Linked DNA regions of Homo sapiens: region 2 is linked to region 1. Evidence: fine-mapped expression QTL. A gene starts in region 1. The other region holds a variant in brackets. All regions are shown on one strand. Distances are between the middles of the regions.

Region 1 (5,381 bases):
AAAACTGCCCAGGATTAAACATCTACTATTGCTATAGACCAATATATCCTTTTATGTAATGTTAATGGAAAAGTCACCTCATTCTGATGTGTTTTGAGTTTGATCCTCTAAAACCATAAGAATCTTCCCATGAGAGATAGTTGAGAAAATGTTGGCCTTTATTAGTATGCACTATTAACACAGGTGTTCTGACTGCATTTTCCAACCCTCCCTCTATTTTATGCACCTCTCTACATGTGAGAACTTTTGACTAACTCTGAGTCCTGACCTGCCAGAGTGACTTTGTCAGTCTCTCTTTAAAAATGGGCAGGTGAATGAGTTCAGCCTAGAAGCAGCAGCTCGGTAAGGGAAATGAAAATATCAGAAGTTATCTAATCACAGCCATAGCCATGCTGAGCTTCATCTTATCTTTTGGTTAATAAAAAGAAATGGGACCTTCCGAAACTTGAAGGGCATCAAATTAAGTTTTTGCTTGCCTCTGGCTTTTTGGGGGATATGCTATGTGGTTTAACCAGCATATACTAACTACAAAAATTGACATGGATTCAAAACACCTGTGTCATAGGACGGTGGGTGTTTGTTTTTTTGTTTTGTTATAAAGCAGAAAATAAAACACAAAGGCCTTTGAGAACAGGGATTGTTAAGGGAATAGAAGAGTATGGAGAAAAGAACACTTTATTTGAAGTTAAGGTAATTGTGTACGCCTGTGTATGTGTGCGCGCGGGGGCGCGCGAATGAGCAGGATTTAGTTTCATTTAAAGATAACATATTAAAGTATCTTGGACAGCTCAAAAGTGCTGTTCAGGAAACAAAACCAAGTGAGCCAAGAAAAACCAGAACAGTGCTTTTAAAATCCCTGGCAAAGCAGCAAGAGGATGAAGAGTTGGTTTTGCATAGTTTTGAACACAGGGTGTAAAGGTGCTGAGGCATCTTTTCCCACAAGTCACTGAAATCCTGTGAGAGTGTGTGAGTGTGTGTGTGTGTCTGTGTGTGTGTGTGTGTGTGTGTAGAGGGAGAGGTTCTCAGATGTCTCTCTTGCAAAGCTTCCCAGAGCACTCTCGCTTCCCTAGCCCCCTCCCGCCTCACTCTGCTCACCTTTCCCCCCTCCACTTCCCAACCACCCACATCAAGCCCTTCATAGATTTGCGCCCCTTGGATCATCTCTGCCGCCTGTGACTTTCCCTGGAGCCTAGCAGGTTCTGGGGCTGAAAGGCAATCCGCCAAGGCGCCCTGGGGCGCCGTCAGATTTGGAACATAGAATGGGAAATAGGGCCTTAAAGCCCACCTACTCCAAGATGAAGGAGGAGCATTTTTCATCAGGGTTTAGCCTGCTCCTCACCGGATGGTAATCAGCACTCGCTTGACTTGGCGTGGACCACCTCCTAATTATCTCCATTGGATTCAGCCCTAACAGTTCTCGTGTGTCTGTGATACCACGCGGGGTCGTGATCTCCTTACTCAGCTGTGGCTTGGTTTCAGTGGTCCCTCCAGTCCCGTCCCCTGTCCCCGTCCCCCTTTCCTTCTGGCTACTTTATTCCATAGAGGAAGAAGCGCTGAAGGACTACGTTGAATCAAAGCACTTGCAAGCCTATTCATTAGTTTTTAACACTGAGAAGAGGCAACTAAAATATTATTAGAACCTCATTGTAAGAAGTGTGGGGGAGGAGGTTGAGAGGCTGAATCCAACCGCAGCCAGGTCAAGCCATTGGAAGGGACTACAATGTCCCACAGCTTTCTCACTGTCAGAGAGGAAGCTGCAACTTCAGCCAGAACTCCCTTCCCCTCCCCTTCCCCGATTTTGAAAACCGTACCCCTTCTTCCGCCTTCGGGACTTCCCTGACCTATCCCTCACCCGTGCCATGCTGTCCCCTCCCCTCCGCGGTCTTTCTCCCCAACTCCATTCGCCCCACCCCACCTGGGCGAGTTGGGTGGATGTCAGAAGGCGAGAGGTAGGGGATGGAAGTCCCTTCAGATTAAAGACGTTGCTTGCTGCTGCTTTTTAAAACAACAACAGCAATGACAAACGTGCAAAGGTGAGCGAGAACCAGTGCATCTCAAAAGTTGGTCTTGCTACGCAGCAGCTCCAACAGACTTTGCAATCACAGCGCCCCAGGAACACAGGAATGAAGAGTTGGCATTTACTTACCTGGGTGTGCCAATCTCGAAGAGTGGAGAGAGAATTCAGCCCGGGACGAGGTCTGTCCCGCCCCCAGGATGCAAAATCCGGCTTTGAAGTGGAGGTGGTTGGTGTGGTAGTTTTGTACTGATGTAAGGGGCGTCGCACCTCCTTCCCCTCTCGTCCTCCGAGGTCAGTTTAGCAACAGCGGCTGGGAAAGGTGCTGAGAGCAGAGTTCGGTCTCTCCGGAAACCCTGACTCCATTCTCGGTGATGGGGGTGGGGGAAGAGGGTGAAAATGTTGGAGATGTCAGGTCGGCTCTCAGTTAACTCGGAGAGTAAAGAGGAGGGTACTGAGAAAAGAGGGAGGGAGTGGAGTGGAGCGAGGGAGGAAGGAAAGGAGGGTGGCAGAAAGAGAAGGGGACGAGCGGGTGGCGGGGAGATGGCAGCTTCTCACAGAGAGATTTCCACCTTCTGACGAATCCCATGCACCCAGCAACCCGGCAAGAGACTGGTTCCGAAACCTCCGCGCGAGCGCCCCCTGGGGGTTGCTGACGGAGACGAGCATTGCCCCGGGAACCCGAGCTCAGGCCCCGCCCAGGCCTTGGCGGCGGCGCTCTCCGTGGTCCTGCCGCGCCCGCAGTCTGGGCTTTCTGCTCAGCTTTGTCGCTCAACTGAGCTCCTGGGGACACTTGATTTAGATCTCCAAGTGCTTGGTCTCCATCTCCACTCTAGGGTGGAGCGGTCGTATCGCGGCGCGGGTGTGGGGGGAATGGGAGTTACACTTTTTGGCACTCACCAAAGAAAACTTCTTAGATGGGTGCTTAACTGTCACCAAAAATGGTAAAGGTGTTGCTAATCTCTGGATCCTTCGTGTCTACAAAACTGTCTGGCGTATGGCAGGAGCCTGGAAATTATTTTTAGTAAGTAATGCATGAGTAAATTAATGGACAAAGAGTATTTTCTTCATCTCATGATGAGTTTCTGAATACATCTACCTCACAAATAAGATAAAGAAATACTTAGGGAGTACTTATGCTTAAAGATAGATATAAATATGCTGTCTTATGTAAGGGGTGACCACTTCCACATGTTTTAAAGCACTTTAGAGAGAAAGTATGGCCTTCCTATTTCAAACTTATTCAAATTCAGACAAATGAACTTATTCAAATACAGGGCATTGTTTCTGATTATGTCTGCTACCATAGACAAACTAGACAACTAAATTCTCTCTGCACATTGGTATTGTCAGACTCACAAATTGGACTTTGGAATTAATGAAGTAAAGTGAATGACGGTCTCTTTCTGACATTGGGATGGTATAGAGTGTGTTACATCTAACGTGGAGGGGAGATGGAAGGTCTTCCTTCTCACCCTATTAAGGGGCTATCTAACAAAGCCTCTCCAACCTGAAGGTTGGAGGAGATATTAGCCAAAATCTTTTCACTAACCATGAAGTTCTCAATTTCAAAGTCCAGAAAAGGAGAACCAATAGGGTAAGGAGGAAGACCCCCTCTTAATTGTTCTATAGAAGTAGACAGAAATATCTTTGATAAACAAAGGGACAACCTTCTGACAGAACACAAATAACATTTTTCTTCTTTCAGTCACCTCTAAAGCCTTTCTGAAATAGGATAACACTAAACATGGACCCTGGAAAGGACCTCAGGGAGCTTCTCTGTACACTGAAACTACCACAGAAATCCTTGGATTTGCTTTGATTGCAAAAACTTGGGTCACATGGCTATGCATAAGTCAATCGTTGTGACCTTTGGATATGGAATTACACTAATGGGCCAGGACTTCCACAATGTCTAGGAGCATGTGATGTCTTCTATAGCACTCCTGGAGCCAGGATGGAGCCCCACCTGATCTACACACATTGCGAGTGAGACACAGGGACAATTCTCCAAGGGATATTCAGGGTCCTCCTACCAGGAAAGGGGAGACGGATGCTAAGCAGGCAAAACCAGTGTATGACTACTAAATATGAAAATGTTAAGTCCAAAAACATTACTTCCAGGTTTTGTTAAGAGGTAGCCTCAGAGATAAACTCAAAATTTGAATTGGATTGAACTTGCAAAGATGAAGGAAGAAGAAGGAAAAGTCATTGTGCATTTCCTTGCATGTTAATTGTATCCTCTAAAATTTAATTTCTATGAAGGCAAGGGATATGTCTGTTTTGTCGTCTTGTTCATAATTATAACCCCAATGCCTAGAAAGGTGTCTACCACCTTCTACATTTATAAAATTAAAAATAATATAAATACCTTAGGGACCATTCAACATAAACTTCTTATATTACAGGTGAGAGAAAAGGAATTAAGATGTGCTGAGCATGTACTATTTCCAGGCAATCTGTTAGGCACTCTACTTACCATCCCATTTAATTTTTACAACAACCTGCCCAAGAAAGTTTTACTATATCTACAAAAATAAATCCAGGGTGTGGGCGGTTGAAATGACCAGACCAGGGAACACAACTAGTTAATGGGAGGATAGGGGTTGTTCATTGAAGCAGTCTCTAAAGGGGCAGCTAGAATAAGTGAACACATGGACCATAGAAAAGAAGTTATAGAGTCAATGCTCATAGGGAAAAAGAAAAACAACATAGTTATCTTTGGCCCTACATGTTAAAAGCATAGATACACAAACTAAACACAATGCCACAACTTGTGACAAATATGGTTTCCTTTGCCAGCAGGCTTCAGCTCCGTAATTAGAAACAAACAGTTGCCTGCATGCCAGTGCGCAGAAAACGTGCAGCTTTATGCCAGAAACTTGGAATTTTTTTCTGAAGGCATGACACTGAAGGTAAATTCAAAGAAGCTTTTTACAGGGCACATAAAGCAGAATTTACTTCCACCTCTTATATGAAATCAACAGCTCATCTGTACAAATGAAGATTTGTAACCAGCTAATAATCCATGTTTTCAATCACTGCCCCCACAGCAAGTTGCCCGCCAGCCACAGTCCCCTCAACAATTGTAACATCAAAATCCCCTTGTCTCTATCACTCACCTCCTCCCAGCTCTCCTTTTAATGGATTCTGAGCTGCTGGGTTCTACAGCCATGGTCAAATTTATCTAAAGCCAAGCCACAAAGTCACTGTGGCCCTGGTGTTCCCAAGTTGCAAAGGAAGCTTCAGCTCTGGGTAGATTCACTCGCCGGGTTTCTGTTTGATAAGATAAGAGGAGGCATCCGCTCAGTGTCTTATGCCAATATGAAAGGCATCTCACCCATCAGTGTGACAAGTGAAATCCTGG
Region 2 (5,381 bases), 250 kb after region 1:
ACTCAGGGCTTTCAAAAAAGCTGACCACTTCCTCATTGAAATACTCTCTCCACCAAGCTTCTGCAACACTACACTCTCCTGTTTCCCTTCTAAGTTCTGCCTTCATGTTTTCAGGCCCCTCCTCCTCTGTTTCAGCTCTAAATACCAGAGGACCAGAGAGCTGTGTTCCTGTTCCTTTTCTTTGTAATTTTTAAGTCATGTTACCAAACCAAACCAGGGTCTGCTCACTCAGTGCAGTAAAGCCAAACATCTACACCAAGGTTTTGCAGCAGGGGGGAAAAGAAGGCATTTATCTGCAGGGCACCAAGCAAGGAGAATCAGGCAGCTCACACTGTAAGAGCCAACCTTCGCAATAGCTTACAAGCAAGAGTTTTTAAAAGCAGGGATAAATTTCAGGGAAGTAGAAGTTACAGGCAGAATTTTAAGGCATATGTGGAGGTTATATATTGATTTGGCCTAAAAAGACAGTATATATTGAAGCAGGAACTTACAGGTCATTGGTGGATTCGAGGATTTTCTGATTCGCAATTGGTTAAGGAAGGGAAACTTTGTCTAAAAACTTGGGATCAGCAGAAAGGAATGTTAGGTCTGGCCCATGGGTATGACGTCCTTTAGGCTCCTAAGGAAGAAGTTTAGAAAAAAGAACGGCAGTCAGAGTTCAGTTCTCAATCGCCCCTTATCTGAGGTCTACATGCCAGTGGATCCATTTGGCTGGGGTCTGTGTTTCTGAAAAGTAGCTCAGGGACATATGTTGAGATGTTGTCTTTAGTTTCTATAGGGAACCAAACATCTCAGGACTCTAACTACCTTGGCTATTGTTTTCAGCTACTATTATCTTCTTGCTTATCAAGTTGCTTATTTACTTCTCAGGGCTAGTGAGGCGGCTAGTTCACTGCCTAGAATTTCCCCGGAAGGAACTCAATATTTTCCTCTATTTCCATGCTTGGCAAGGGGGGGAGGGGGGCCCTAAGAGGGATCCCTGCTCCGTTTCTGTCATGTGACCTTAGACGAGCAACTTAATCTTTCTGAGCCTTAATTTCCTCAACTATAAAATGAGAGTTAATAATAGTACCTTTCTCATATAATTATATCAAAGTCAAAATAAACATGTAGAGATGAATCCATAAATTTAATATTTTATTTGGGAAGAAAGAATTGCAATTTGGGCCATACATACAGACCTGGTGGTCTTCGGGTATGTCCGAATAGCAAAGAACGGCTTAGCAGTTTTGAAACGAGAAAAGTTCCCTTATTCCCCTCGCAGGGCGTGTGACGGGGGTGTGGCGCGCTTCTTCAGTGCCCCGCTGCTCACACCTCTAGGGGGAGCATACAGACAGACGGTCGGGTTGTGAGGCTCCGACCCCATAGCAGTGTCTAGGGGTTAATGTTTACAGCTGAAGCCCCAGTGGGCCTGTGTTACAGGGTGCTCTTTCAGTTTAGCCGTCCGTAGGCGGCTTGTGCTAGTCAGCTCAATCAGACACCCTGCCTTATCGCAGGGACAGAGGGCTTTCTGTATCATGGGGTTTCTTGCCCTGGTGTACCAGAAGAATCAGATCACACGTAGGCTTGGAGAATGAGTGCAAGGTTTATTGAGTGGAAGTAGCTCTCAGTAGATGGGGGAGCCAGAAGGGAGATGGAATGGAAGGTTGCTTTCCCCTGGAGCCAGGCCGCCCAGCAGCGGGGCTTACCTTATACCGCCCTGGCCAAAGTCCGTGTCCTTCCGCGGGTTGATGGCCTGCCGCCCTGCTGGCCTACCGGCGTCTGTCAGTATGTTCTTAGGCCAGTGCGTTCCTCTCAACGGCTAGGTGCTTGTGTCTTTTTCCACTGCTGTGATCCTCTCAATGTCCAGCCGCTGGTGTGTCTGCCCACTAGGGTCTCAGGGTTTTTATAGGCACAGGATGGGGGGATGGGGGCATGGTGGGCCAGGGTGGTCTTGGGAAATGTAACATTTGGACCTGAAAACAAATGCCTGTCCTCACCTAGGTCCGTGGGCACAGGCCTGGGGGTGGAGCCCTCGCCAGGGACCCGCCCTTCTCCGCCCAGCACTTCCCTGCCCTATTCCGATATCAGTTTTATAAAAAAGGAGAAATGTTATGTATTCTTCTTTGAGAAAGTTCATTGGCATAAGAAAGAATTTAGGGAGTCAGAAAGCTTCAACTGGTGAATGGTGGCTGTGGGCACAATTAGTGCTAGCCTTTGCAGCACGTTATCTCAGAAGA[T/TAA]GAGATAAAACTGGTTTCAGGTTACAACAAGCAGTTTGGGCTTGCAGAGAATTACATTCTTTCAGCAATGTTGTACCCTGCGTGCTTGTTCCCCCTGGCTTCTCAACTCTGTTTTAGTTGTGAGTGACAAGAATGACCCAATTCTTATGATCAACTTTCATGATTGTTATGAGAATTAAACGAATTAACACCTGTAAAGCATTTGAAACAGAACCAGCCAGGTAATGAGTCAGTGCTTCTCAAATTTTAAGGCATATTAGAATCACTTGTGGCTTTTAAAAATCTTGATATCCAGCCCATATACCATAGCAATTAAATTAAAATCTCCAAAAAATTCTCTAATAACTAATTAGGCACAGGGTTTTATTGTTGTTATTTTGTTTTGAGACAGGCTCTTGCCCTATCAGCCAGGCTGGAGTGCAGTGGCATTGTCAGAGGCCTTTGAACCAGAGCAACTCCATCTTGAAAAGGGGCTGGGTAAAATAAGGCTGAGACCTACTGGGCTGCGTTCCCAGGAGATTAGGCATTCTAAGTCACAGGATCAGATAAAAGGTTGGCACAAAGTACAGGTCACAAAGACATGTACATTAATTATATGCACTAACTATAATGCATTATCATGCTAAAAGATATGCCCAGCAGTGCCATGACAGTCTATAAATGCCATGGCAATTTCAAGAAGTTACCCTATATGGTCTAAAAAGGGGAGGAATTGTCAGTTCTAGGAATTGCCCACCCCTTTTCTGGAAAACTCATGAATAATTCGCCCCTCGTTTAGCATATAATCAATAAACATAAAAATCGGCAACCAGCAGCCCTTGGGGCTGCTGTGCCTATGGAGTAGCCATTCTTTTGCTTCTTTACTTTCTCAATAAACTTGTTTTCACTTTATGGATATGCCTCAAATTCTTGCGTGAGATCCAAGAACAGCACAATCATGGCTCACTGCAGCCATCTTGGGTTCAAGCCATCCTCCCACCTCAGCCTCCTGAGTAGCTGGGACTATAGATAGGGGAAAGTCACCACACCCAGCTACCTTTGTTTATTTTTTGTAGAGATGGGGCTTCCACCATGTTGCCCAGGCTGATCTTGAACTTCTGGGCTGAAGCTATCCTCACACCTCAGCCTTCCTAAGTGCTAACATTACAGGCATGAGCTACTGCACGCAGCCTATTTTTTTAATTCTAAGGTAACTTCAGTGTGAGGCTAAGGTTGAGAACCAGGATAGTAAGAGATATAAAAGTATGTCTTAAATGAATAAGATAAACCTGTGTCTCTCTGAAGCTTCATCATCTGTGTCTGACACTTTTGTTGCCATTCACCCAATTTCTGAAGCCCAATGCCTAGGAGTGCCCCTTGATTCTCCCGTTAGCCTTAAATAATGAGGACCAGAAAAATTAAGTATAGAGTTTATAGGAGTCCAAAGCTTGAGGATGGCCACATGGGGGCATAGATTCAAGTTGCCATAAATATACACCCTGATTAGTAGCAGTTACTAGTTGAAGTTTTAAGGAGTAAAAGAAGAGGCAGTTCCTAAGTTGTTTACCAAGAATTTACATTAAAATAACATAAGCTAATGATTGGCTATATATTGTTCTTTGTATCACAAAAACAGGAAGAAAATGGATGTAGCAGCTAGTCAAGAACAAAATACCTTTAAACAATTGTCCCAGACATAGCGGAGAAGGTGACTGAAGTCCCATACTCATGTTTCTCTGAGCCTGATAAATTCTGCATATCTCACATAGCTCAGACTGCTCTGAGCTATTTTCCTTTTTTCCTTTTCTCACCCTTCTCCCTCACATCTCATATCCAATACTAGTATGTATTTTTCTCGTCCATTCACTTCTTTTGACTTCCCCAAATCCACCCTGATCCAAGCTACAATCATCTGTTTCCTGGGCCACTACAGTAGCCTCCTGGCTGTTCTCATTCCCTTTTTTGCTTCTCCATAATTCATTCTTCACAAGCAGCCACAGAATTTTTAATGCATATCACTCCCCTGATTAGAACTCCCCATTTGGCTTCCCATTGCATTTTGAATAAATCCAAACTCCTCACCATGGCCTCAACAAGATCCTGGGTGATTCAACACCTTCCTACCTCTCTGACCTTGTCTGCTCCTGCCCTTTCCCATTTTTACAATTCTTCAGTCACTCTGGCCTTTTTTCTTTCCTCTGAGACCACAATCTCACTCCCTGCCTCAGGGTTTTTACACTTCCTGGGATGCTCTGATGGCTCTCCCCTTTCCTGCATTCAAGTCTCACCTCAAATGTCACCTCATAGAAACCCTCTCTGACCACTCATCTAAAGTATCCCCCACCTCAAGTCACTCACAGTCATGTCACCTTATTTTATTGTCTTCACTGTAGTTCTCACTGTTACAGGACCAATGGGTTTGTATGTCCGCTGTGCAGTATCAGACTGATAGGCTGAGACAACAGGGTTTGCAGCAGAGAAAGAGTTTAATGATTGCAGAGTGGTCAAGTGAAAAGATAGGAGGAGACTCAAATCCATCTCCCCAAGATGTTCTGCGCTGGGGTTTTTAAGGGGATCATGGAGGGCAAGGGCCTAGAAAATTGAGGTCATTAATTGGTCAGGTAAGCGTAATGAAATAATCAGGATGTGGAAATTGCATTCTTTGTTAAGTCAGCTTTTCATGGGGCCTCAGTGAGGTCCCTCAGACCAGTTGACATCAATAGTTTCACTGGTATGCAGGACCTGAAAGAATATCTCAAATGGAAAACAACATTTCACAATGTTTAAGTTGTTATCTACAGAACAGTTAAGTGGTGACAGGTCTGTGTGATTCTGGGGTAACAGGCAGTGAATAACTCTTAGTAGGCAGGTCAGAGAGTAAGCTGACCTCATGATTAATGGTGAATGTGCTGCGATCTTGCTTTATTTTTATTTCTCCCCCTCTTTTCTACTCTGATTAACTTTCTGAAGTCTATAGGGATGGTTTCATCATTATCTGAAATTATCCTGTTTATTTATTTGGTTACTCGTTTACTATCTCTCTCTGCTAAAATATATTTCATTTTAAAAAGAAACTTGTCTATTTTGTTCACTTCAGCATTGTAAGAACCTTGAACAGTGCCCGACACATATAGGCACTCCATAAATATTTTTTTGGATGAATGAATATGAGGCAATAGGCAT

What was found. PIP is the estimated chance that this variant, and not a neighbour inherited with it, causes the effect.
Region 2: its variant is fine-mapped to the expression of CPNE4 in stomach (GTEx, PIP above 0.99).

Annotation. Positions count from the first base shown.
Region 1 is chr3:132,032,421-132,037,801 of GRCh38, forward strand. It overlaps CPNE4 (copine 4), which reads right to left and starts at 2,594. Exons shown (of 16, transcript NM_130808.3): 1 at 2,147-2,594. RefSeq lists an enhancer at 2,174-2,343 and a silencer at 2,719-2,818.
Region 2 is chr3:132,283,552-132,288,932 of GRCh38, forward strand. No RefSeq gene overlaps it. Among named protein-coding and RNA genes, the nearest start is that of ACP3, 31 kb to the right of the region's middle. The variant T/TAA (reference allele first, on the strand shown) is at 2,220.